4 linked regions of the Homo sapiens genome follow. The protein of the gene in region 4 purifies or fractionates together with the protein of the main gene of each other region. This does not show direct contact. Each region holds a gene or a part of one and is shown on either strand. Other genes may lie near its edges.

What was found.
Region 1: the proteins of GRB2 (region 4) and DOCK5 purify together in Homo sapiens (co-immunoprecipitation; 5 studies listed by BioGRID and IntAct, with this or other methods). This does not show direct contact.
Region 2: the proteins of GRB2 (region 4) and ANXA2 purify together in Homo sapiens (affinity purification with western blotting; 5 studies listed by BioGRID and IntAct, with this or other methods). This does not show direct contact.
Region 3: the proteins of GRB2 (region 4) and SNX18 purify together in Homo sapiens (co-immunoprecipitation; 5 studies listed by BioGRID and IntAct, with this or other methods). This does not show direct contact.

Annotation. Positions count from the first base shown.
Region 1 is NC_000008.11:25,411,670-25,416,229, forward strand, and holds the end of DOCK5 (dedicator of cytokinesis protein 5), read left to right. Parts: 3' UTR 1-4,042; downstream 4,043-4,560. UniProt on the Homo sapiens protein: Guanine nucleotide exchange factor (GEF) for Rho and Rac. GEF proteins activate small GTPases by exchanging bound GDP for free GTP. Along with DOCK1, mediates CRK/CRKL regulation of epithelial and endothelial cell spreading and migration on type IV collagen.
Region 2 is NC_000015.10:60,394,956-60,402,753, forward strand, and holds the start of ANXA2 (annexin A2), read right to left. Parts: upstream 3,032-7,798; 5' UTR 2,988-3,031; exon of another isoform or gene 2,959-2,987; coding exon of another isoform or gene 2,916-2,958; intron 2,384-2,915; exon of another isoform or gene 2,303-2,383; intron 1,473-2,302; exon of another isoform or gene 1-1,472. UniProt on the Homo sapiens protein: Calcium-regulated membrane-binding protein whose affinity for calcium is greatly enhanced by anionic phospholipids. It binds two calcium ions with high affinity. May be involved in heat-stress response.
Region 3 is NC_000005.10:54,541,723-54,547,087, reverse strand, and holds the end of SNX18 (sorting nexin-18), read right to left. Parts: intron 3,910-5,365; coding exon 3,656-3,909; 3' UTR 502-3,655; downstream 1-501.
Region 4 is NC_000017.11:75,325,678-75,332,714, forward strand, and holds part of GRB2 (growth factor receptor-bound protein 2), read right to left. Parts: coding exon 7,023-7,037; intron 344-7,022; coding exon 221-343; intron 1-220. UniProt on the Homo sapiens protein: Non-enzymatic adapter protein that plays a pivotal role in precisely regulated signaling cascades from cell surface receptors to cellular responses, including signaling transduction and gene expression.

The sequences.
Region 1 (4,560 bases), on a different chromosome or scaffold from region 4:
AGGATTTTTTGCTTTGCTTATGAAAAGCTGTGCTTGAGACTTAGGTACTTTTCTCACGTGGACACACTGATCCCATCCCATATTGCATCTTGGAAGAGATGGATATCAAGTACACTTTGGTAGCTGAAATAATCATATCTTTCTGATGTCTATTGTATCTCCTTTGAGGAAAAGAACACACATTTTTAATGGAGATTGGCTGCTTTCAGGTATGTGTGTCTATCATTGAAAGAGCATGGACTCAAACATCAGCCCTGAGTTCTTGAGTCCACCCAACTCCCATCTTCTTGTGGCACAGGAAAGCTGCCCTCTCCCTCTCCCACCACACTCCTGACTAATGGCCTTCACTGCGTCGCAGTCACTCCTTCCCTACGGACTTCTTTGAAGCTCTTCCTTTTGCACATACGGCTTTTTTTTTTTTTTTTTTTTTTTGTCCTATTACCTCCTCTGAGCGCAAATCACTGGCTACAAGGGACTTACCAGTCTGGATTCAGCAGTTTCTTTTCTAAAACCCATTTGGGTGACTCAGCAGCCGCATCTGCTACCTGATTTTATCCTGGAGAATACAGTGCAATATTTCTCTTTGATTATTTATTCCTCTTGATTGTGGAATTAATTTGATTGCTTGCTAATGGTACTAGTAGTACTCCTTTCAGAAGAAAAAATGGAGCGATTTAGGTGACCAAATATTACATACATAAATAGCCACATGAAGTTTTAGACGTTTGGACTTGAAGCCTCAAAGATCAACCAACCAGTCCCCTTATTTAGTAAATAAGGAAATTGAGGCTACACACAGAAAATTGTGCTACAGATTATTACTAATAACCCAGCTTGCTAAATTAGGCTATACCTAGGTAATCTCTAGAAGACAACTCTGACAGACTCTTTAATATTTACCCCTGGTTGGAACAATATTTGAAATGTCCCAGATATTTCTATGCTACTTAGATATTTGTGGCAAAGCAGAAAGCTTTTTGACTGTGAAGGCAGAGGTCAGCACTGGGGGAAACTTGCTGGTGGTCTCTCCCACAACCTTGCCCAGAGTCCTTTCCACTAAGGAGGTGAAGAGAACAGAGAAAGAGATTTCCATTTCTGCTGCCAGAGCTGGTATTTGCCTGCCTGATTCTCTGTGTTTCCTGTTTCACCGCCACCCTTTCAGGAGAGAACTACACCAGTTCATCATGAGGGTCAGGGAAGCAAAAGCTCTCAGATGTGTCCAGGGCGTTACTTAAGAAATGAGTATGCAGATTCTGGAAGGGGTGTGGAAAAGGTGATCCTTTACCCCCACCCAGGAAAACCTGCATTGTGCTAGCATGGAAGAATCATGGGCTTTGGAATTAAACCCATTTGGTGGAATTAAACCCATTTGGTTTCAAATCCCAGTTATGACATCTGTTAACTTTGCAAACTCACAAAAATTATTTGAAATTATCTGAGTTTTCATTTTCTCACCTTCCAGAATGGGGATAATGCCTCCTGCATCGGTTGTTGTGAGGTTTCAATGAGATGAAATATGGGAAAGAAGAGGTACTCACCTGATGGTCCCTGCTTTCCTCTGCTAGGCCTGAGTAGGAACTGGAACTCTCTAAGAGCATTACTCATACTTTTTTTTTCTTCCAAGGTAGTTTGGAATGTGAGTGCAAGTTAGTTCTGCACATACAGCCCTTCTCCAAATGGTGGTTTCCTTTGAGGTCTTTTACATGATTATTTATGACTAGAGACAAACTTAATAAGAACTCAAGAGGATTTTAAATGGAGAGAACTCAAGCTGTAGAGAAAGGAGGAGGCAACAGACAGGATATGTAGGGGCTTACCTAGAGCCTGGCACGACTTCTGAGAAGTCACCCAGCAGACCGGCTAGAGGGGATTTGTGTGCCACACTCTACTTGCCGGGCTGCCATTAAAATAGAAAGATATAAAACTGGGTCACCAAAAAAACCAAACCTCAAGGCTATCCTTCCAGAGCAGTAGAAATGAGTCCCACAGCCTGGTCTTTGAGCAGAGGCTGGGAAGATAGGATACATCACTGTCTGGATACCTTCTCTTTTTAATAGAATATATTCCGTATGATTCCCTTTCCACCTTAATGGAAATAATAGCTCTCTCCTGCCTGAACAAAAGGGATTCCAGGTAGTATTGTGGCTAAGAGATTACAGCGGACGATGGAAGGTTCATTTTTTAGGGAAGGTGTTGGGTAGGAAGAGTCACATTTGACAGAATTCATAAATAATGTGTCCTGAAGTCAGAGGATGACTGCAAAGAAACACCTCATGATTCCATTAAATATAAAGAGATAAGGAGCAAGGAGGAAAAAAGAGAAAGAATTGGTCTTTATTTTTCTTGCTAAGAACTCTCTGGAGTATTGAAAGACATTGAAATTATCCCTAAAATTGTCACAACTTTTGTGAATACTGGTATACGGTTGGAGGTGTTTTTAAATCTTTATTTCCTCTCTTTCTTTGTTCTAGTGACTTGTCTTGCTTTAAGATTTTTTTTAAAGGATTGTTTTATTCAACATATATCAAGTTCTTATGGAATGCCAGTCATGGTACTAGCCCCTTGGGATGTAGTGGTTGAGTGTGTTCAATGGAAACAGCCCCAGTATACAAAGACAGTTCACTCTGGTGTGCTGTAGGATTGGAAAGGGAGTGGTACCAGATGAAAATGAAACCCTAAAGAAGACTGCTGGGCCATGAGTTGCTTCCTCCTCCTCCACCTTAACCCTCTGATTCCAGAATTGCAGTCATTTTCTTCTGCCAAGGAAATCCATTAAAAACTGCAGCCACACTGCAATTTCCTAATGTAGAACAAGATATAAAGCAGGCTTTGAGACAACAACCTACCTTTGTTTACTCTTTCCAAGCTGGAAGAGTCCTTCTCCTCTAGTTGCCCCTAGGTCACTGGCTAATTTATTTTAAAATTTAGATGGAACTCATGTATAGTTAAGTGCACAAATCTTAGCCGTGCAGATGGGTAATTTTCACATAGCTATTTGCCCACATCCGTGCCTCTAAGATAGAGACATACACTGTTTTCAGCACCCCAGAAAGTTCCCACATGCCCATGGTGCCATTTTGTGAAAGGTATTTATAAGGCCCTTCAAATTTGTGGCTTCCTTTCTCATACTTCTCAGGTATAATGAAAGGGGGAGAAAAACCCCACCATCAACACAAAACAAGGCTATAAAGACTGTGCACCTTTTAACAAGTCAATTTGTAGTCAGTCCCTGGGCCTGTCTTTTTTTTTTTTTAATTTTGAAGCTACCTGAGGTTTAGAATTCCTTCAGCCCTAGCTGCTTTTATTCTGCTTTTTATTTAAACAAAAAGAGGGGGAGGATCTGAAGGAAACTAGTTTTCTGTACAAAGGCTTTGAGGTCCATGGACTATACTTGTCCCATTTATCATCCCAGGTGGTGCTTTGACCCTGCCATACCCTGGCTATTAAGATAAAAAGATTTGTGGACATTAAAATTATGAATATGTCAGTAATAATCCAGCACACATTGAAATATTGACACAGATTACCATAATTTGTGCAACATCTTATAAACAATGTCATTTCCATAGTAGTCTAAGGCTTCACCAGCCTGGCCCACTGTATCTAGACTTTAGGTTCATTTTAATAATTATGCTTTCCTTCTCTGTATCATTTGGGAAGTTGATAAATATCACTTCCTTAGATACCTTCATTCAGTGATATATCTGGCTTTTACAATTAAATTGGAAAAGGTAAGTTTCTCTTTGGTGGGTTGAGAGTTGGACCATCAATTCTAATCTACAAAAGGAAATTCATGATTTCACTCTGACGCCTAGGATCTAGCCAAGGCTGGTCTGCAGTATCAGATGTCCAAACTCATCTACTATTAGCCATATTTTGTGAGTCGTTTGTCTAAACTTTGTCAAAAATGCCTTTGCCATGATTTTGTTGCTATCTGGATTTCAAACATGGACAGTTAGGAAGATGTGCATTGAAGTAGGAAAATTTTGTTCAGATTTGCTGTTATTTATTTTTTAAATTAAAAATGGAAATGTATTTTAAAGTTTATTGTGTGTTTAGTTTGTTATTGCCCTTAAGTTGATGAAATCATTCCTGAACTTGGCAGTTTTTCCTTATCCATGCCTCCTTCATGACACATCACACCTAGCATTTTTCTGGCTTGTTTCCTTACAGGTCCTGTTAGGTTAAACCTGCACTGTGGGGTCCTGGAGTCATCTTTGCCCAGAAATAAGAAAAATTACAAACCACTTGCTTCCTTTCACCCTATCTATTTTTTTTTCTATCTAGGCTGACAGTTTTCTGATAGCAATTCATTTAATGTACATAGGTTCTGTTTCTTTACCCATTCCCCATAGATATTTAGACAGGTAAAGAGAGAAATAAAAAGGTTAAAGGGGATATCTAATAACTTACATGAAAAGGATAGGAACTGGTTCTAAAATGGTTGAATGTTTGTATCACCTGGGGAGAGGCCATTCCCAGACCAATTACATCAGAATTTCTGAGGGTGGGGAGTAAGATCCCAGGCATCCATATTTCTTTAAAGTCCCTCCCAAGTTA
Region 2 (7,798 bases), on a different chromosome or scaffold from region 4:
GGTGTGGCACCAGGGCAAGTGAAGAGGATTCTCATGTGAAAAAAAAGAGGAACATTCCATTTCTATTTAATTCTCACAATTGAATCTGGAAGGCAGCTTAAGACACCATAATTTTAAGCAAAACTTCCCCGAGGTAGGTAAAATGTGAAGTTTAGGTCTGTGGAACAGCTGGATTAAAGGGGAAATGAACTCCCACCAAGTTTAGAAACTAGTATTAATTTGGGAAAATATAAAGTTTAAAATCCAACAATTCACTTATTTTGTCTCTTTTCCTTCTCTCTCCGCCAGATTTAAGGTCTAAAGAGCAGGGATTTTATTTTTGGCGGGGGTCTGTTTTGTTCACTGCTGTATCCCTAGTGCTCATAACTATGAGTGGAACACAGTAGGTAATTAATATTTTGTGGAATAAATGGTTGTTTAAAGCAGCCCACTAGAGCCTGAGACTCCTTTTGTGACAATCCCGCTCTCCTTTAATGAAAAATGTCTCCGCAGGCTCCAGGCTCTGCACAAGCGAAGGGTGAGAACAAAGGCTCCAGACAATGCATTAGTGCCAGATTCTAGGCCCAGTGGTGTAGGAAGAGCCTACAGCCCTCAAAATCAATAGCAATTATAGAAGCACATCTACTTTGCCAGGAAAACTACTTAAATCAGAAATTAGCCAGGAAACTAACGGCCATGACTGCGAGCCTAATGTCAATCAATACCATAGTTTAATAGCTCAAAGACACAAGATGCTAAATATTGAGACTCCAGTGCAAGACTGAGCTCCTAATCAAAGTCAGTGAGTCAGCAATATTTCCTGGGCATTTACCACAGGCAGTCTAGTTGGCACTGCGGGAAATTACAAAATCTAAACGGTCTCCAAATCACAAACCTCCAATTGTAAAAATGCACATACATGTCACATCCTTCCACTGCAGATGCAAGGGACATTTTTGGACAAACCCTTGACCTTTAGATAATCGACAGACTTGGAAGAAGGGAAGAAATTACTAAGCAGGACTGTGTTAACACTCCTGGCCCTTGCCCATCAAGGGCACCTCTGCTGCCCCAGTCTTACCAAAAATCTTCCTTAATATTGCCTGAATATTGCTGCTTTACATTCTATAAATTATAGATCTGTTTAGGTGAACGAGGGTTTTTTATTATTATTATGTATTTATTTTTTGAGACTGGGTCTTGCTATGTTGCTCACATTGGCCTTGGACTCAAGAGATCCACTAGCTTGAGCAGCTGGGACTACAGGCCCACGACCACGCCCAGTATCGTTGTTTTTTAAATAACAAGACTCCTCTCGGTTGCTGAGGCTCTTAGGACCACCAACCATTCCTAACTTAATGAATATCGATTCAATCTGCTAGTCTCTAGCTGGATGCAGGTCCGCCGAAATGGGAAGGAGGAAGGAATGCAGCGTAACTGGACCGGCCTGGATGGCTGTTGTAATGCGTCACGGAAGAGCCAGAAGAGCGTCTCTAAGGAGGTGGAAGGTGGAAAAAAGAAAGTGGAACAGGGGCAAAGACATAATTTTCCAATTAAAATAATTTACTCAGTGTCAACCTTAAAGCTAAAAAAAGTTCCAGAAAAATATTTCAGTGATTTAGTCTTCCTACACACACATTGCCCCTCACTACCCTCCACCTCCCCACCACCAATCCCATAATCAGGCAGTGCATGTTAAAAAGGTCTTTCAGGGCTAGCCTGGGAACGTCAGCACCTTCTGCAACACTGTTTCAGTGGGAAAGTGCATTCTGCATTCCAAGTCACCAAGTTCCAGACAGGCACAGTAGCACACACGTGTGAACAGAATCCATCAGTACAGTCTGGGGCCCAGGCCTTTGCACACCAACAACTTAAGGTTCTTGGTAATGGCCCAGCGTGCACCCATGAGGCCACTGCTCTTTTACACACGCACTCAGAACACCCACAGCTTTAAAACGGCAATCTTACTACAAAAATGACACTTTGCATTTGCACAGCACTTTGTTTTTTGTGTACTTTACACATTTATTACCTAATGACTGTGTTTTTTGAAATCTCCAATAACTCTGGGTGGTGGTAAGAATAGGCATCCTTAAGCCACCTTCCCAGATGAGGAAACTTATCTGTGTTCCCCTCCTTCTTCTCAACAGCCGGCTGATGGAACCCAAGCCCTCCACACCAGCAGTGGGGCCAGCTGCACAGAGCGGCCAGAAGGGAGAGGCCCCGGGGCCACGCCCTTCTCTCTACTCTCAGTTCCTGACTCATTGTCACATCATGGCGAGTAACAGGACAACCCTCCCCACAGAATCATGGGGGACACTACCTTCCTGAGGCCAATGTGTTCAACCAAGCGGGAAACTCTCCGGGTAGAGTGAAATCCGAAGTTGCTATGCTACAAGATAACCTAGAGCAAGGGGAATAACTGACGTTTTAATGTCTTCTTTTATGGGGGGCTGAGGGGTGCCTACTCACACTCCCCCCTCTCGTCTTCCCCCGCTACTTCCCTCCTGCTGGTCGGTTCAACTCCACAAGCGCGCGTTTGTTTCGAGTACAGTAACTTAGAGCAGATGGGGGGCACTTTCTAGAGGGCAGTGGAAAGCCCACTTGCTACTGCTGCGCCGGGGACCTGCGGCTCCCTGGGCGGCCACGCCCTGCCTCGGCGGCGCCTGGCGCGTCTGGAATGCGGGGCCTCCCTCCGCCCCTCTCCCCACGCCGCCTCGCCCCGCTCCCGCTAGGGCTTCTTAGAGAAGCCCGACCCCCCACCACCTCTGCCCTGCACCCTCCCGGCCCGAGGGCCGGTGGCCCCTCACCCCTGCCCCAAACACCTTGTCCCTGAGCCCCCTCCCCAAAGACTCTCCAGTGCCGGCCGTCCCTTCAGCCCCCTGCCCCCGACGGCCTCCGGGGCCAGTTGCCGGGGCCTCCCTGCCAGGCCGTACCCTTCTTCCCAGCGTCTCCACACCCCGCTAGCTGGCGGCCCATCGCGGGCGGGCAGGGCGCGCCCCGCTTACCTGGGCCGTGCGCCGAGAGCTGAGAGCGTCCCCAAATGCTGAGCAGAGCCGGCTGGCCTGGGTGGGGCTTTTATACCCGCCACATCCTCCCTAGGCGAGGCGAGGCCCGCCCCGCCCCGCCCCGCCTCCCCCTTACACGGCCCGCTCCCACCCCAAGTCAGGGGTGACTCACCCCGGCCCGCCGGCCCGCAGGGACCGCGCCCTGGAACGCTCCCGAGCCGCGCCACGCGGGAGCGGCCCCAGCGCCCCTGGCCCTGCCCTCCGAGAAAGCCCGGCCGAGGCTGCCCCGAGGCCCACAGGGACCCCGTTTCTTCCTCCTTTCCTCATTTTACTTCTTAAGTGCCACGTCGAGCTCTCAGCCTCGGCTTGGGTTAATAAATTAACAAGACTTTAGTAGTAGACTCTGGGCTTGATTAAGTGTTTTTTTTTTTTTTTTTTTTTTTTTGGCGTTAATGCAATGGAGGAAAGAATTGTTCCAAGAAACATAAATCTGGACTCCCCTGAGCTGGGGCTGTTGGCATCCAGCGCCCCATTACCGTCTGCAAACATGTCAGCTTAACCTCTGGCCGCCAGTTCCCGGGGGGCGCCCGGGGAGGGAGGGAGATTCGCCCTGTGCTGCAAAGCCTGGCCCGCCCCGGCCTCCGAGGGCCAGGAAGCCCCGAGCCTGGGCTGGGAGGCCAAAGCCGGGAGCCAGGATCCCACCTCAGTCCCGCCCAGGGTGGCGCCCCTGTCCCTAGCACGGCTGTGCTCCGCTTCTCTCCGCGCCTGGGGCATCTCTGCGCGGCCTCGTAGCAGGCAGTCCTGAGCGGGGTGGGGCCCATAGCTTTGAACCCGGAGTTTCGTGTGTGTGTGTGTGTGTGTGTGTGTGTGTGTGTGTGTGTGTGTGTGTGTGTTTCGAACCCGGAGTTTCAACAAAGAACTTTCCTCTCCTTCTTTCATGACTGCTGGGGTGTGTGTGTGCGTGTGTGGTGTGTGTGTGTGTGTGTGTGTGTTTCTTGCAGCCGTTTAGCCAACTCCCTTGCTCGGTGTTGCTGTTACTCGCTTTTCTTCCGAGAGAGAGAGAGAGAGAGAGAGAGAGAGAGTTTCTTGCAGCACAGAGAGAGAGAGAGAGAGTGAGATAGAGAGTTTCTTGCAGCCAGTTAGCCAACTCCCTTGCTCGGTTTTGCTGTTTCTCACTTTTCTTCCGTGTGTGTGTGTGTGTGTGTGTGTTTCTTGCAGCCGTTTAGCCAACTCTCTTGCTCGGTTTTGCTGTTTCTCGCTTTTCTTCCGTGTGTGTGTGTGTGTGTGTGTGTGTGTGTGTGTTTCTTGCAGCCGTTTAGCCAACTCCCTTGCTCGGTTTTGCTGCTTCTCGCTTTTCTTCCAAGAGTCACGTTGGCAACGTGCAGGCAGACACCTATTTGTTGTATGTGAGACGACGCAAATACTGTATTCGAACCTCAAACTAACAGGAAAGCGACGCTGAGAATCCCGAGGATCTCTGGCTGCGTTTTTTAAACCCCTCCTTGCACACTACTTCCTGCAGCTCTTTTTCCTGGTTTTGATGATTCTGTGTTTCAATCTCCCATTTATCTTAACATCCATTTTTACTTTCCATTTGAGCGTCAATTCACTCCTGGGAATCAGAGAATGATAGCAAGGCCAACAGACATTCAGTGCTCTGCCCACTCGCATAGAGTGACACAGGCAAAGTCGGCCACAGCTGAGGTCTTTTAACCCGCCCAAAGCTTTCTGTTACCCAGCGCTTTCACGAGGAATTATACGCGATGGGCCCTACCACAGAGCCAAATAGAAAATCAAGCAACACTTTGGGTACAATTGCTGATTTACATTTATAGCTCTTCAATTTAGCCTGAAAGCTTCAAAGTCAGAAACAATGTTTATCTGCTTACTTTGTGTGAACATTTTGGAAGGTTAGGGGAACACAGGCAGACAGTAATATTGGGCACGATTCAGCCTCCCTTCTGTGTATCTCAAGATAGGTTCCACAGTCTCTTACTCCTAATCGTGCTGTGATAGGCCCTTTACAGAAGATAAAATTTAATTCAAATCATGTGGAATATATAAAAGCCATCAAATGTCCAAAAGAGTTTTGTGCTCATCTTGGGCATGCCACAAATTCTAACTTCTATAGATTTGTACAATCACCAGTCTTTGCATCATGCTAAAGAAATGTGCACTGATGTTATCATAAAAATGAAGCTATTAGAAGTCATAGTTTGCTATTTCTGAGGAATGTGAGGCCAGTTCTTCCAGTATAAAAGATCTTTTATTAGTCAGAAGACTCTATTTTCCCCCCTGGTTGAGGAGAATGTTTACATCAGCCCTCAGATTGTCTGCTGTTGTCCATATTGCTCTCTAAGTGCTTGACTTTGTTTTGTTCACACTTCATCTGCTGCACTCAACACCTACTAGCGCCTAGCTAGCAATGATAGGCACTCACTAAATGTGATAGAATGATAAAATACAATTATTCACTGAATAATAGAATGTTAAAGCAGGGAGGGACCCTAGAGATTAAATTGCCCTATCCTTGATTTTTACTATTATTATTCTTATATCTTTTAGTTGAGATCTCACACTGTCACCCAGGCTGGAACGCATGGCATGATTAGGGCTCACCGCAGCCTTGACTGCGGAGGCTCAAGAAATCCTCTCCTCTCAGCCTCTTGAGTAGCTGGGACCACAGGCCCACGCCACCAAGCCTGGCTAATTTTTCTATTATTTGTAGAGACGACAAAGTCTTGCTATGCTGCTCAGGCTGGTCCCGAACTTCTGGGCTCAAGTGATCTGCCTACCTTAGCCTCCCAAAGTTCTAGGATTACAGGCGTGAATTACTATACCCGGCTCTTGATTTTTACATATGAAGAAATTGGAGTCCAAATAAAATCTCCTGCCCAGTCCAGGGATTAAATAATGCACCCAAGGCCCTCGTATCAGTTACCTTTGCAGTATAACAAATTATCCCCATAAACTTAGTGGTTAAACATAACCATTTACTTGCTTGTAATTCTGCAATTTAAGCAGGACACCCAGTGGGGACAGCTTGGTGCTCCTCCACAGCATGTTGGGTTGGGTAGCTTAGTTGGGGTTGGAAGATTGAAAGCAGCTTCATTCGTCTGGCGCCTGAGCTGGGATTGCTAGAATGACAAAGAGCAGGCTGGGCCTTTCTCTTCCTTGGTCTTACATCCTCCAGGTTCTCCTCTTTTGCTACACCACGGTAGTCATGGCAGCCAGCCTTCTAGAAGCAAAAGCTGAAGCTGCCAGGCCTCTTGGCTCACAGGCTGTGCAAAAACAAGCAATAGGCTGGATTTGCCCTATGGGCTGTAGTTTGCTGATCCTTGTTTTAATCCATTGCCCTACTCAAGTTTTTGGTTTTGCCCTCTGATATCTAGGCTCCTCCCTTTAAGATGTATTTCCTTTTCTTAAGAATGGCCCAGGCCAGGCATGGTGGCTCACGCCTGTAATCCCAGCACTTTGGGAGGCTGAGGAGGGCAGGTCATGAGGTCAGGAGATCAAGACCAGCCTGACCAACATGGTGAAACCTCATTTCTACTAAAAATACAAAAAATTAAGCTGGGCGTGGTGGCGGGCGCCTGTAGTCCCAGCTACTCGGGAGGCTGAGCAGCAGGAGAATGGCTTGAACCCAGGAGGGGGAGGTTGCAGTGAGCTGAGATCGCACCACTGCACTCCAGCATGGGTGACAGAGCGAGACTCCGTCTCAAGAAAAAAAAAAAAAAAAAGAATGGCCCATATTTGTAGCTGAGCAGTTCTCTCAGTCTGCTTCATTCATGCCAGGAGAAACTGAAAGGTCTAGAAACTTCTTTTCATTTTGCACTTTTTCTGGTTTAAGCTGGCAGTTGTTTCATTAATACAAGTATCTTAAAAACCATGTAGATTTTCCATATCTTATTAAGGTTCACACCATGCTCCAAGATTTATATACAATTTTCTCAAAAACTTTATTTATATAAATCTTGCTGAGGTTTAATTCCATGTTCCAAGATTCACATTCATTTTTTTTTTTTTAAATAGATCTCTCTCTACTTTACATGTCAGGCTGCAGTGGGACAATGCACTTAAGATTCTTAGAAGCCCTGAGATCGTCTTCGAAGTACCACATTAAATCTTTCTTGGAGTCTTTAAAAAGAAGTTTTTGCCGGGCGTGGTGGCTCACACCTGTAATCCCAGCACTTCGGAAGGCCAAGGCGGGTGGATCACAAGGTCAAGAGATTCAGACCATCCTGGCCAACATGGTGAAACCCTGTCTCTACTAAAAATACAAAAATTAGCTGGGCTTGGTAGCGCGTGCCTGTAATCTCAGCTACTCAGAAGGCTGAGGGAGGAGAATCGCTTGAACCTGGGAGGCGGAGGTTGCAGTGAGCCAGGATTATGCCACTGCATTCCAGCCTGGCAACAGAGTGAGACTCCGTCTCAAAAAAAAAAAAAAAGATTAAAAAATGTATAAAGAATGTCTGGTATATTGTAGGTGATGAAAAAAGCCATAGTTATTTCATTGGCTTTTTTAGTCTTTGCAGCAGCTGGCCTTGCTGAACGCATAGTAAGACCTCAATAAATCCTTGTTGAATTCACGTGTCATGACCCAAACCACACAGAGTACTCTTGGTATGGACAAACCACAATGTCTATTTTGTTTGGAGGCATTTCCAGGGAAAAATCTGCAGTGACTTCAATGTCTCTTTCTCAGCTGTAACAGACATTTTTGACCTCAGTTCATTCTCTGAGACAGCCAGAATTCTCTTTCTGAGACATAATTCTGATTATATGACCCCTCTCCAGAAACTCTTCCCAGC
Region 3 (5,365 bases), on a different chromosome or scaffold from region 4:
TATATGTAAAACAAATCTGTAAAGATAAGCAGATACAAGACTACAAAGCCCCACAAAGAGGGCAAGCTTTGCCAAATGGGACTTTGGCCCCTTGCAAGATATGCCAGGTCCCGTAGCTATTATATTTTGGCTTATGTGTGTTGGAGTTCGCCTATTTATGGCAACCAACAGACAGTATGTCAAGTACTTTACTTAAGCACCTGCTTCTGTCTCAGGTATTGGACTCATGGGAGCTATTATTTCAAAACCTCTCACTCACAACTTACTGCTATGTGCTTAATTCCTGATGTCACTAATGGAAGCAGATACTCCATGGGACTATCTGAATGATGATGGTTTTAAATTAATCAAATTAGCTACAGTGTTTGATGAATAATTTCTATGGTAACTGCAGATGAAGCTCAAGACAGAACATGCTCTTCTATTTTTCTGTGTAATTCTTCACATTAAATAAATGCCTCCTTGATGAGTGGAGAAAAAATAATTATATTCCATTGAAGCTAAGAAATAAAGCAACCTGTTTATTTTTTAAAAAGATAAACATGGCTGATCTGCACTAATCATAACATTTTGAAGGAAATAAAACAATATTCAACATTTCTAGACTACAAATAAATAATACCCTGTTTTACTTATTCTGTTAACCAAAGATGAAGGTGGAAATGAGAAAATTGAATGCTTATGGACTTAAAGGTATCAGACATGGCATTTGATTTTTGGAAAATGAAGACATAAATGGAAAATGGCTATGGCAATGAACTTAAGAATGACATTTAAAAGTTTTTACACAAACTTTACATACTTGACAGACTAAAACATTTTTCAAGTCCTTAATTATGAGAACAGCAGCAAAATTTAAGACAATTAAAAATCGGCATTTAAGAATCTGCTGTATTATTGTGAATAAATGCAAAACAACTGTATCAGTGAAGCCTGGGAAAATCTCAATTACTATAATATTCGTGCACTGGCTTTACATTTCACTTTTGAATGCGTTCCCTCATCCTGGGTGCAAACTGGGTACCTTCAGATACAACAGCTTGGACGGGGAACAAGATTACGACACATGGCTGTAGAACCAGTCTCGCTGCGTTACAGTTACAGCATATAAACAACTCTGTCTAATAAAAACAGTAAAACCAGGCTCAAGTGCACACCCTGTGTTACAAACACATCACATATCAGGATTATAAATCATAGAAATAAAGACAAATAATGGCATGAAGGGCATGATAGTTTATTTTTAAAAATTGTACCACACTGATCATGATGACCAGCATACACATGATAATGGCTTTTCTCTTGGGTTTAACATTGCAGTAGTTTTGCATACTGCAATGTTTCAATAGGACCAAGAACGTTAGAGAATAAAGATCTTAGATGAAAATGAACACTAATAATTCTAGTGTCCTCCCCCATAGAATTAATGTAAATCCCGTATGAATCAGTGGCATTATAATGTTATGTGGTTATGAAGAATGAAATTTCTCTTAGAAGTAGGCAGCATGAATTTATACTTACATAAGTATAACTTATACTTCCTTGTACTTTCATCTTTAGTTTTTATAATTTAAGCTATGTCCACCCTGGCTAAAGTACAATCATACAATATACCTCAGATAATTTCCATGCTACCATTGCACAAGTTTAGTGATTTTACTATTAAAAAAAAAAAAATCCAACCACCATCAAAATAAAGAGGCAAATAAAAGTAATTTTTAAATCATTTGAAAAGCATGGTGCTTATTTGTCCAATACAGACTCAAACTTAAATGCTATAGTTATAATTTCCAGACTTCCGCAAAATTAACATTTATATATACATATGGGTTTTGTTTATAGAACTGTATTTTGCAATCAACAAGTTTTAGAGACAACATATTTGGTTACAGTTCCACATATCTGTAGTAAAGACAAAGCCACATAATGTTCATGATGTTAAATCTGGCTCTAAGTAACCTAAGGTACAAAATTTTGACCAAATATCAAAATGATAATCTGATCTTAAAAATACAACCCATATGAAACTACTTTTTAGAGAGAAAATGTGCTGTTCAGTAATTATTTCAATAACCTTTTCTGAGTATCTGCAAACTGATCCTTTTCTTTAATCTTTGTGACTCACCAATATTTCAAAGTGACCTCTTCACTTCCATGTTACCATTTCAGTACCCAGGGATTTCTGAGGCAGCATAAGTTTGACTTCATAAAAACAGTAGATACTCTAACAGTGACAATTTTTAAATCTGTAAACTCAATAATCACATTAGTTAGCTCAGCAACTATAAAAACATTGAGATTGGGGCACTGTAAGCCAGAATCTCTTTGTGCTTTTTAAATTAAGCTGCTTTTGAATCTTTTTGGTATTTATCAGCCATCTGTATTTCCCTTATAATAATAAAAGAATACATTTAAAATAAATTTTAAGGTTAAATGTCCTGGGGGGGGGGGGCTCATCAATACCTTTTTTTTTTTTAAAACATAGTATAAATCAATTATCTTTTTCCTTCAGTATTTGGAATAGCAAAAATTATTTCTGGTCCCTCCTTAGATCAATCCACACCACTTTTCATGACATATTAACACTGAAATTTACAGACATCCCTGAAAAGTTTTTAAGTAAACAAGTGAATCACAGTGGAGTCTCAATCAGTTAACAGTGTAGATCCATTTTTTTTCAAAAAACTGAATATTAAAAGAAAATCTTCAACCTAAAAACAAAAACAAAAACAAAACCCTCCTAAGAACTAAAGCCAAGTGTGTGTTGTCAATGATTCGATACTTTTATCCCCTGACTGATTTAGACTCCTCCTCCTCATGTTGTAAGACATGTTTGCTGAAATCTTCACGCCAAGCTTTTGGGACGCCTGGGTGAAGAGGCTATGCTACTGTTGCATCTAAGGGAATAGTGGCACTGTTTCTTCCCTAACAGACTTCATATCCAAAGATGAGCAATGAATCTCACTCCCCTGCATTCACCAGCATCTTATCAGGAGATAATACTTGCTGTGCAAATTGATGACAGCTGATCGTCCCACCCCACCGCCCCCCCCACCCCCTACTGCCAATATAAGGTTATCATCAGTTTGTCATTATATGCACTGGCCTTTCACTCTTTCAATCAGAAAAGCTGTGGCTTACTTTAAAAAGGTGGGGAAGGGACGGGGAGAAATGAAAAACCAAGAGTCTAAAGGCACAAGGTCGCATAGCTGCTCTAGTTGGAGTTTGTAAACAGAGAATAGGTTGAATTTAGGTAATCCCAATCTATGAGAGTAAAAAGGCATCCACAGCAGGCTTGTATCCAGCCAGCTTCTTTGAGACCCTTCATGGGTTTTGAGGTCTACAAAGTATGCACTAAAATACCCATACTTCAAAAAGCAATAAGGCAAATAGTATAATCATTATTCCAAAAGTTACAATGGTAGTGTAGGCATACATAGTATAATTTAGTTACAATGTGTGGTACTGTTTCTATTATATAACCATATTAACTGTTTATTTCCTACATAATTATAAATTCAGCTGGGTTTCAGATGAACACAAAACCGTCCTTGTACCACCACTGATAGCTGGCAATAGCTCTTTGACAGCAGTTTTTATTCTGCTGTAGAAATTATCCTTGAACTGAAAAAGTCCATAATCCAACGTCCAGTCATTAAACACTATCATATTTGTGAAGAGCTTCTTCCAACTTCTGGGTAACTTTTTGGAAAAATATTATTTGTTGTTGTAAGAAATGCTGCATCTGTGATTTAAAGTCTCTCACTCGAATTTGATGGAAGTGGTGAATTTCAGCCAAAGTGGCAAAAGAAATAGTGTTACAGCGATCCTGAATGCCGTCAGCCTTCTGCACCTCCATCTTCCCTTCCTCCACGTGTCGCCTACTCTCCTTGACTTTGGTAAGAGCTCCTGTAGTTAAAAATAACAATTAATTAAAAACCTATATATCCACATATCCCAAGAACATAACTACATATTAAACAGAATCTTGGGCATTATAAATAGTTGCCCAAACTATTTTCAATACCTTTGAAATTTAAAGTGAGGACCATAATTACTCATTTTAAAAAAAGAAGGAATCTGGTAAAGTTTCTGAAAACACTCCCTTTGTTAAAATTTCTCTTCAAAAACTAGTGTTTGTTACATTGACCAAGAATCTGTAGTATCCCATCTCTTCCAAGTAGAGATGCTATACATAACTGATAATAAACTGCAAGGAAATGTCCTTAAAAAGACACAACAAGAAACTGCAGTTTTCACAGGCTCAAAAGGTGTGACATCATTATTTCCACATATATTAAGAGAATTATACTGTTTATAAAAACATCCCATAAAGGATCCAAACCCACTTCCTCAGAAAGTCTCACTAAATAATTCAGACTCTAGAACCAGTCTCTGAAACAAGTTAGTACCAACACAGGTTGTGTTTTGGAATCATGTCACAGTCATGGAGGGTGCTTGGCAATGTTGCCAGTCTACAATTGGAGGTCACCCTCATGAGGGCTGGCCTAGCCCATTATCTTGTCATCCAGAGTAAACACCTAGCTGAAGTGCTCAGCACACAGAAAGTGCCTGGTGAAGGGGTGAATTGCGAACACATGTCTGATTCTGACTTCACGTTGCATCGGGAGACCCACACCTGGAGTACAAGGGCTTTAATAAGAATTTGCCCCTTTTTTGGGACTATAAGGATCGGTGAGTGTTAACTCTGCCCTAATGATGACTTAGGAATGATGCCAGCGGTTCCATAATCTCATGCCTAGAAGTATCAACAGAGGGTGTTGCAGGGGTGGGGGTGAAGGATTGACCACTCCGGCAGGTGCCATACGAACGCAGGCCCTCCCCCGAAAGCACAGTCATACAAAGACACAAAAGTTTGAGGATGTTTAGGGGTAGGAAATAGGCTATTCCTGAGTTCTTAGGAATGAGTAGTAATAAAGCTCAAATCACTTGAACAAAGCCAGCTTAAGAATTCAGATTTCCCGACTGTGCCTAGCACTCATTCCACTAAACCATACTGAAAGGCAAGACAGAACACAGAGACAAACAGCTAGAGTGCCTGGCTTGGCAGTCTGAGAACACAGTACTACTGAGGAGGGAACCAGGAACCTTGAGTAGGAGGAGGTACAGAAACTGAGAGACTTTGTTTCGGAAATGTTGTTTTGCCCAATAGTGAAATATACAAGGGAAGATGCCCTATTTCTAAATTTCTTCAAATCTCCTAAAGAATAATATAATATTAAACAAAACCCTTAAACGTAAAGCAGTATGCTTTTTTGGCATAGTTCAAAGACCTGAGAAATGAAAAAGCACCAACAGCAAATTTCATCCATATATATGTACGTGTAGGTGTGCACATATGTAC
Region 4 (7,037 bases):
TGCTCACCTCCTGAAGGCTGTGTCCACATGGGAATCTACATCCAGTGCTTCTAGAACTCATTTTGAGAGGAGCCAGAAATTAGGATTTTAATGTGAAATGAAGAAACTGTTTAGGCTAAGCCTCCACCATTTTGTGTGTAGCCAGGCACCTGACCAACGGCTTCACAATTTGGATCAGTCAGAGACAGGATTCCAGGCAACTGCAGCAGGAAATACTTACTTGACAGAGAGGGAGAAGTCCCCAGGAGCGCTCTCACTCTCTCGGATAAGAAAGGCCCCATCGTGCCGCTGTTTGCTAAGCATTTCTTCTGCCTTGGCTCTGGGGATTTTGCCAAAAAACCACCTAAGGAAGGAAGGCAAGCTGGTCAACATCTGCTTCCCCACAAAGAAACGGGATATCCAGCCTTCAAAATGTGAGTAACACAACACTCCTTGCCAGAGGAAGGGGCCTCCCTCCTCATCCTCCAGCCTCACAGTGCCCAAGATCGACACTGGGTTGGGTCCCCAGAGATGGACCTTCAAAGGTCTTTAGCCTACTCCATTTCCCAGAAAGCGACTCACCAAGGCACTAACCGTGGGTCACTCTTTCTATAGAGGGAGACATTTGAAAATGGGCCCCCCAGGCCAAAGCCCACTGGACTCCCTACTGACTCATGACAAAGGCGCCTGGGGAAAAGCTCAGGCCTTTGGGCTTGGTGTACGGGATGAACTGCCAAGGAGAGACTGGCCCCTTCCTGCAGCCATGTGATAAGATCACAGCTTCACCACAGTGGGACTAAGGGAAAGTGGGGAGGAAACCTGGACGGCCAGGAGCTGGAGGCAGGGTTACTTTTGCTAACAGCCCAAAGGCAAAAGGTTCAGATAGTATGAGGGTGCCTCTACCAGTAACTAAGGTCAGCATTCCTCTCAAGGCCTGCCTCTGGGGCCACTGCTCAGAGTTCAGCTTTCAGAAGCCACCAGGAATATTGTAATTTACCATATGCTCAGCAGCTAGCTGCAAAATTCAGATTTTTGAGGCAAGTTGCAGACTCTTCTGCTCCCAATTGCTGATTCACCTTGGCCAGAAGAAAAAGTGGCTAAATTCATGAAAAACTGTGAAGCAACTGGCTGTGGCTTATCAAGAGGAAGAGGAGAGGAACACTTCTACAAGAGCTTCAAGTCAAGCTGCCTCACTATTTCAAATGAAAACTATAATTAGGAAGAAGAAACTGTGAAAACCATGTTCTCTTCTCAAAATTGTCTTTAGTTATCATTTTTAAAAGCAAAAGTTATAGCAAATAAAGACCTATAAACATGGAAACTGGCATTCATTTAATATGCTAATTATAATATCAAAAGTCCTTTTAATGGACCAAATAGTCCATTAAAGTTGTAAATCTAACTTACATATCTTTTCTTTTTTTTTTTTTTTGAGGAGTCTAGCTCTGTCACCCAGGCTGGAGTGCAGTGGCACGATCTCGCTCACTGCAAGCTCTGCCTCCCGGGTTCACGCCATTCTCCTGCCTCAGCCTCCCAAGTAGCTGAGCAGCTGGGACTATACATAGGCGCCCGCCACCATGCCCGGCTAATATTTTGTATTTTTAGTAAAGATGGGGTTTCACCGTGTTAGCCAGGATGGTCTCGATCTCCTGACCTTGTTGATCCGCCTGCCTTGGCCTCCCAAAGTGCTGGGATTACAGGCATGAGCCACTACGCCCGGCCCTTTTTTTTTTAGATAGAGTCTCACTCTGTCATCAAGGCTGGAGTGCAGTGGCACGATCTCGGCTCACTGCAACCTTCGCCTCCTGGGTTCAAGCAATTCTCCTGCCTCAGCTTCCCTAGTAGCTGGGATTACAGGCGGCCACCACCACGCCCAGCTAATTTTTGTATTTTTAATAGAGACGGGGTTTCACCATATTGGCCAGGCTGGTCTTGAACTCCCGACCTCGAGATCTGCCCGCCTCAGCCTCCCAAAGTGCTGGGATTAAAGTCGCGAGCCACCACGCCCGGCTAATTTACATATCTTACTTATAAGCAACCATATTGGAAGATGTACCTAAAATAATATACTATACTCAAATTCAAACAGAAAGATGTGATCTGCTAGGAAGGATACACTTAGAAGCTGCCCTTAGTAACTTTGTCCTTGTGTGTGTGTGTCAGCCTCTAGGGACTCTTAGTAACTCTGAATAGTCTGACATCTACCTGCTTGGAGTCTTTCTCATTTTGCATACTCTACTGCCAGGATGCTGAGGAGCTGGGACAATAGATCCTCCTGCTTCTACAAATAACTCAAGGCTAGGGCCTGCAGTGCCTGGAAATCAGGCCACACAAGAGAAATCACATATCACTAGAATAGAATGCTCTCTAAATATAAAAGGACAGGCTGGGCCCGGTACCTCATGCCTGTAATTGCAGCACTTTGGGAGGCTGAGGTGGGGTGAATCACTTGAGGTCAGGAGTTTGAGACCAGCCTGGCCAACGTGGTGAAACCCACTCTCTACCAAAAATACAAAAATTAGATGGGCACAGTGGTGGGCACCTGTAATCCCAGCTACTCGGGAGGCTGAGGCAGGAGAATCACTTGAACCTGGGAGGCAGAGGTTGTAGTGAGCCGAGACTGTGCCACCGCACTCCAGCCTGGGCGAAAGAGTGAGACTCTGTCTCAAAAAAATATATAAATAAATAAAATAAAAAAGGAGGCTGGGTGCGGTGGCTCAATGCCTGTAATCGCAGCACTTTGGGAGGCCGAGGTGGGCGGATCATCTGAGGTCAGGAGTTCGAGACCAGCCTGGCCAACATGGAGAAACTCCATCTCTACTAAAAATACAAAATTAGCAAGGCGCGGTGGCGCATGCCTGTAATCCCAGCTACTCGGGAGGCTGAGGCAGGAGAATCGCTTGAATCTCCGGGAGGCAGAGGTTGCGGTGAGCCGAGATCGTGCCATTGCACTCCAGCCTGGGCAACAAGAGTGAAACTCCATCTCAAAAAAATTAAATAGGCCGGGTGTGGTGGCTCACGCCTGTAATCCCAGCACTTTGGGAGGCCGAGGCGGGCGGGTCACAAAGTCAGGAGATCGAGACCAACCTGGCTAACACGGTGAAACCCTGTCTTTACTAAAAATACAAAAAATTAGCCAGGCGTGGTGGCAGGTGCCTGTAGTCCCAGTTACTCAGGAGGCTGAGGCAGGAGAATGGAGTGAACCTGGGAGGCGGAGCTTGCAGTGAGCCGAGATCGCGCCACTGCACTCTAGCCTGGGCGACAAAGCGAGACTCGCTTTCAAAAAATAAATAAATAAATAAATAAATAAATAAATAAGGACACTTAACGGTATTGAGACCTTCTCAATCGGGGGGCCCCAATCAACGGTATTTAAACCTTCTCATATCGGGGGGCCCTGGGTTTCTAATATAAGTGTATGCAGCATGCATCTGACTGGGTACAGCAGTGAAAATCCACACATGGCCTCGGCTGGCTCTCCCCACACTGCCCCACACTCCCCACCACTGCCACTTCCAATAGCAATGGTGAGGGTGAAGATTCTCAATCAGCAAGGCTCTCTTTCCTCCTAGGCCCCCAAGATCTCTCCACTAGGGAGGTTTTTTCCCATTTGTAGGTATAAAATAATGAATATAAACTGAAATAGCCTAGATGTACATGAAGCAAACATAAAAAGTAAGATGCTTCCCTCAAACTCCCCAGAGGCAGCACGTGTTGGCGGTTCTAACACTTAGGTTTCCAGACCTTTCTGTCTGGTGTCACATAGACATGGCTGCTGTGTTTTCTTGCCCCCAGCTTAAAATTAACGCAATTTTATTTTCAATTAAAAAAAATAAATTGTAGTGAAGTACAAATTATAATGTTTAAAAAGTACTCTAACTGGAATTAAAACCAAAAACCAAAAAAACCACAACTCTGTTATAAGCACCCAGATCAAGAAATAAAAAATCTGGCACCAGGTGCAGTTGCTCACGCCTGTTAATTCCAGCACTTTGGGAGGCTAAGGTGGGAGGATTGCTTAAGCCCAGTAGATCAAGACCAGCCCGGGCAACACAGTGAGACCCTGTCTCTACGAAAAATAAAAAATTAGCCAGGCATAGTGGTGCACAGCTGTAGACGCAGCAACTTAGGAGACTAAGGTGGGAGGATAACTTGAGCCCAACCTGGATGACAGAGCAAGACCCTGTGAATAGCTGTCACTACTAAAACACTGAAATACCACCATTCTACATTTCTATAGCATTTTATATCATTTATAAATTTGACTTTTTAAAATGATGATATGTACATGTGACTACATGCTTACGGGTGAATTTTTTTTATTTTTTATTTTTTGAGACAGAGTCTTGCTTTGTTGAATAGGCTGGAGTGCAGTGGCGTGATCTTGGCTTGCTGCAAGCTCTAACAGGCAAATGTTTTGAAAGTCTTTAAAAAGATGGGCTTTGGGCCGGGTGTGGTGGCTCACACCTGTAATCCCAGCACTTTGGGAGGCCGAGGCGGGCGGATCAGGAGGTCAGGAGATTGAGACCATCCTGACCAACACAGTGAAACCCCATCTCTACTAAAAATACAAAAATTAGCCAGGCATGGTGGCACATGCCTGTAATCCCAGCTACTCAGGAGGTGGAGGCAGGAGAATCCCTTGAACCAGGGAGTTGGGGGTTGCAGTGAGCCGAGATCGCGCCACAGCACTCTAGCCTGGCGACAGAGCGAGACTCCATCTCAAACAAACAAACAAACAAACAAACAAAAGATGGGCTTTGGCAGGGTGCGGTGGCTTACACCTGTAATCCCAGCACTTTAGGCCAAGAGCTCGAGATCAGCTTGGCCAACACAGTGAAACCCCATCTCTACTAAAAATACAACAATTCGACGGGAGTGGAGGCACGCGCCTGTAGTCCCAGCTACTCGGCAGGCTGAGGCACAAGAATCGCTTGAACCCAGCAGGCGGAGGTTGCAGTGAGCTGAGATAGCACCACTGCACTCCAGCCTGGGCAACAGAGCAGGATTCCGTCTCATAAAAACAACAAGAACAACAACAAACAAAAAACAAAAAAAAAAAAGGTGGGCTTATACAACAGAAATAGCAAGGGCGAGAGCTAAGGGGGTGAGGGGAGAAGGCTAATTTTCCAATATAATTCTTTACTACATCCCGTAGGCTCCCATCCATATGCATTTAGTGTGAAAAGCACATATTTGGATCCACCCCTCAAGCATATACAACTCATGCTGCAGCACTAATGCCAACAATCATTTTGTAGTCTAATTTGTTAACTTGAATGCTGCATTAGCTGACATGGTGCTACATTTTATGCTTCCCTCTTCCTCCATAACCCCTGCTCCCCACCCCCACAAACAAACAAACAAACAAACAAAAAAACAGGAGGTGGTAGGATGTGGAGGAGAAGGCCTGGTACTGACCCTGACCCTATACTCATGAACATCCAGCCACAGAGCAGCCCTATACAACAGCAACTACGTCTGCAAGGCCAAACACCTACATAGGCACAAGCATGGTCTTTGTTAGCAATATGGTAGACCTGAATAAATAAGGGTTTTTAAGTTGCTAGTTGCCTTTTCAGAGCTCAGAGTGGCTGAGCACTGCCCACCCTTTGGGCAGAGTCTGCAAATAACAACACAGCTGAGCCTGTGCTGGGTGCTTCTCCATCAATTCTTCTAAAGTTCTTCATAGTGGGGACAAAAGGTCAAGGCAAGGGAGTGACTGTCCCAGTCAGCCTGGCAGTAACTACAACTTTCCAAGGAAGGTAGCCTTTCCTATCTTTCCTCAACAGTCAGATTTAAATGCCTGTGTCACCCGAAACACTGAAGAAAAATAAGAATTTCGAGCCACAGGCATGTCATATAAGAAGTGTAGTATGATGTTCTGTTGAATTCCCTTTCAATCTGAAAATATGAAAACAAAAGGGAACTGAAGTCGATGTTGTGTTTGGATCTAATGAAGGAGCCAGCAAACAATAATGGCCTTCTGCCCAAATCTGCCCACAACCTAAGACTGTTTTTTAAATTTCTACTCGATTGTTAAAAGAAAATTTTTACAAGGAATATTTGACAGGATTGTATGCAGCCCACAAAGTCGAAATTACTTGCTATCTGGCTCTTCACAGAAAAAGTTTAGCCAACCCTTGACCTACAGTTTCTTTTGAGGACGACTGAAGGAAACAGAAGTACACAAATTATGTGGCTTATATGGGACCTGGGGAGGATGTGCTGTGATCCAACAGGCCCCTCCCACTCAAGATGCGACAAGCCACCTGAAAGTCTCCGCCACCAGCTGCTGTGAAAGCAAGTGGACAATGTCCAAGGGCATTCTAGTCTGAGCGTGGAAAGCCTCAGCTCCCCTGACACACTTGTAAGGCAAGCCAGCAACTGCTTCTGTGCTAGGAGCAGGGCCTGTGAATGAGGGGTGGGTGAGAACGGGAGGACAGTGGTCTGCAGGGGCTCTCAGGGGTCCACTATGTTGCGTTATTAATAAAATCGTGACAAGGGTAGCTTCTGAAAAAAAATTAAAAATATTCACTGCTCCCAGCAGCCTGGAGGACAGCATATTTTGTTCTCTTGTAAGTAGGAACACTAAGATGGAGGGATAAACATTTATTGAGAACTATTAGATGCCAAGCACCGTACTCTGGGGATACAAAGATATTAAGATACCGTCCCACAGCATTAGCACATATAAACACAAAATCATCTAAGTACCTTTTCTAAAACTCAAAAAAAATGCAGAATTATAAAACACATCTGGCTCTAAGACATATTTAACAGAAAAAGAATTACGGACCTGCACCAACTATCGTTTTATTTTTGAAGATCACTGACAGTTATTATCAATCTAAAACATATAATATTATTGACTATGATATATTATTATATACTATTAACATGCACAATCAATATCCTTTGTTAATTCCCTAGAAACGTGAATAAAAAGTATGACATCCATCCCAGTGATCTCAATTTTAAAAAGAGTGTTTGAAACAAGGAGGTGGGTCCAACCCTTCCAAGACTAATGGAGCTTAACTTACGGATGTGGTTTCATT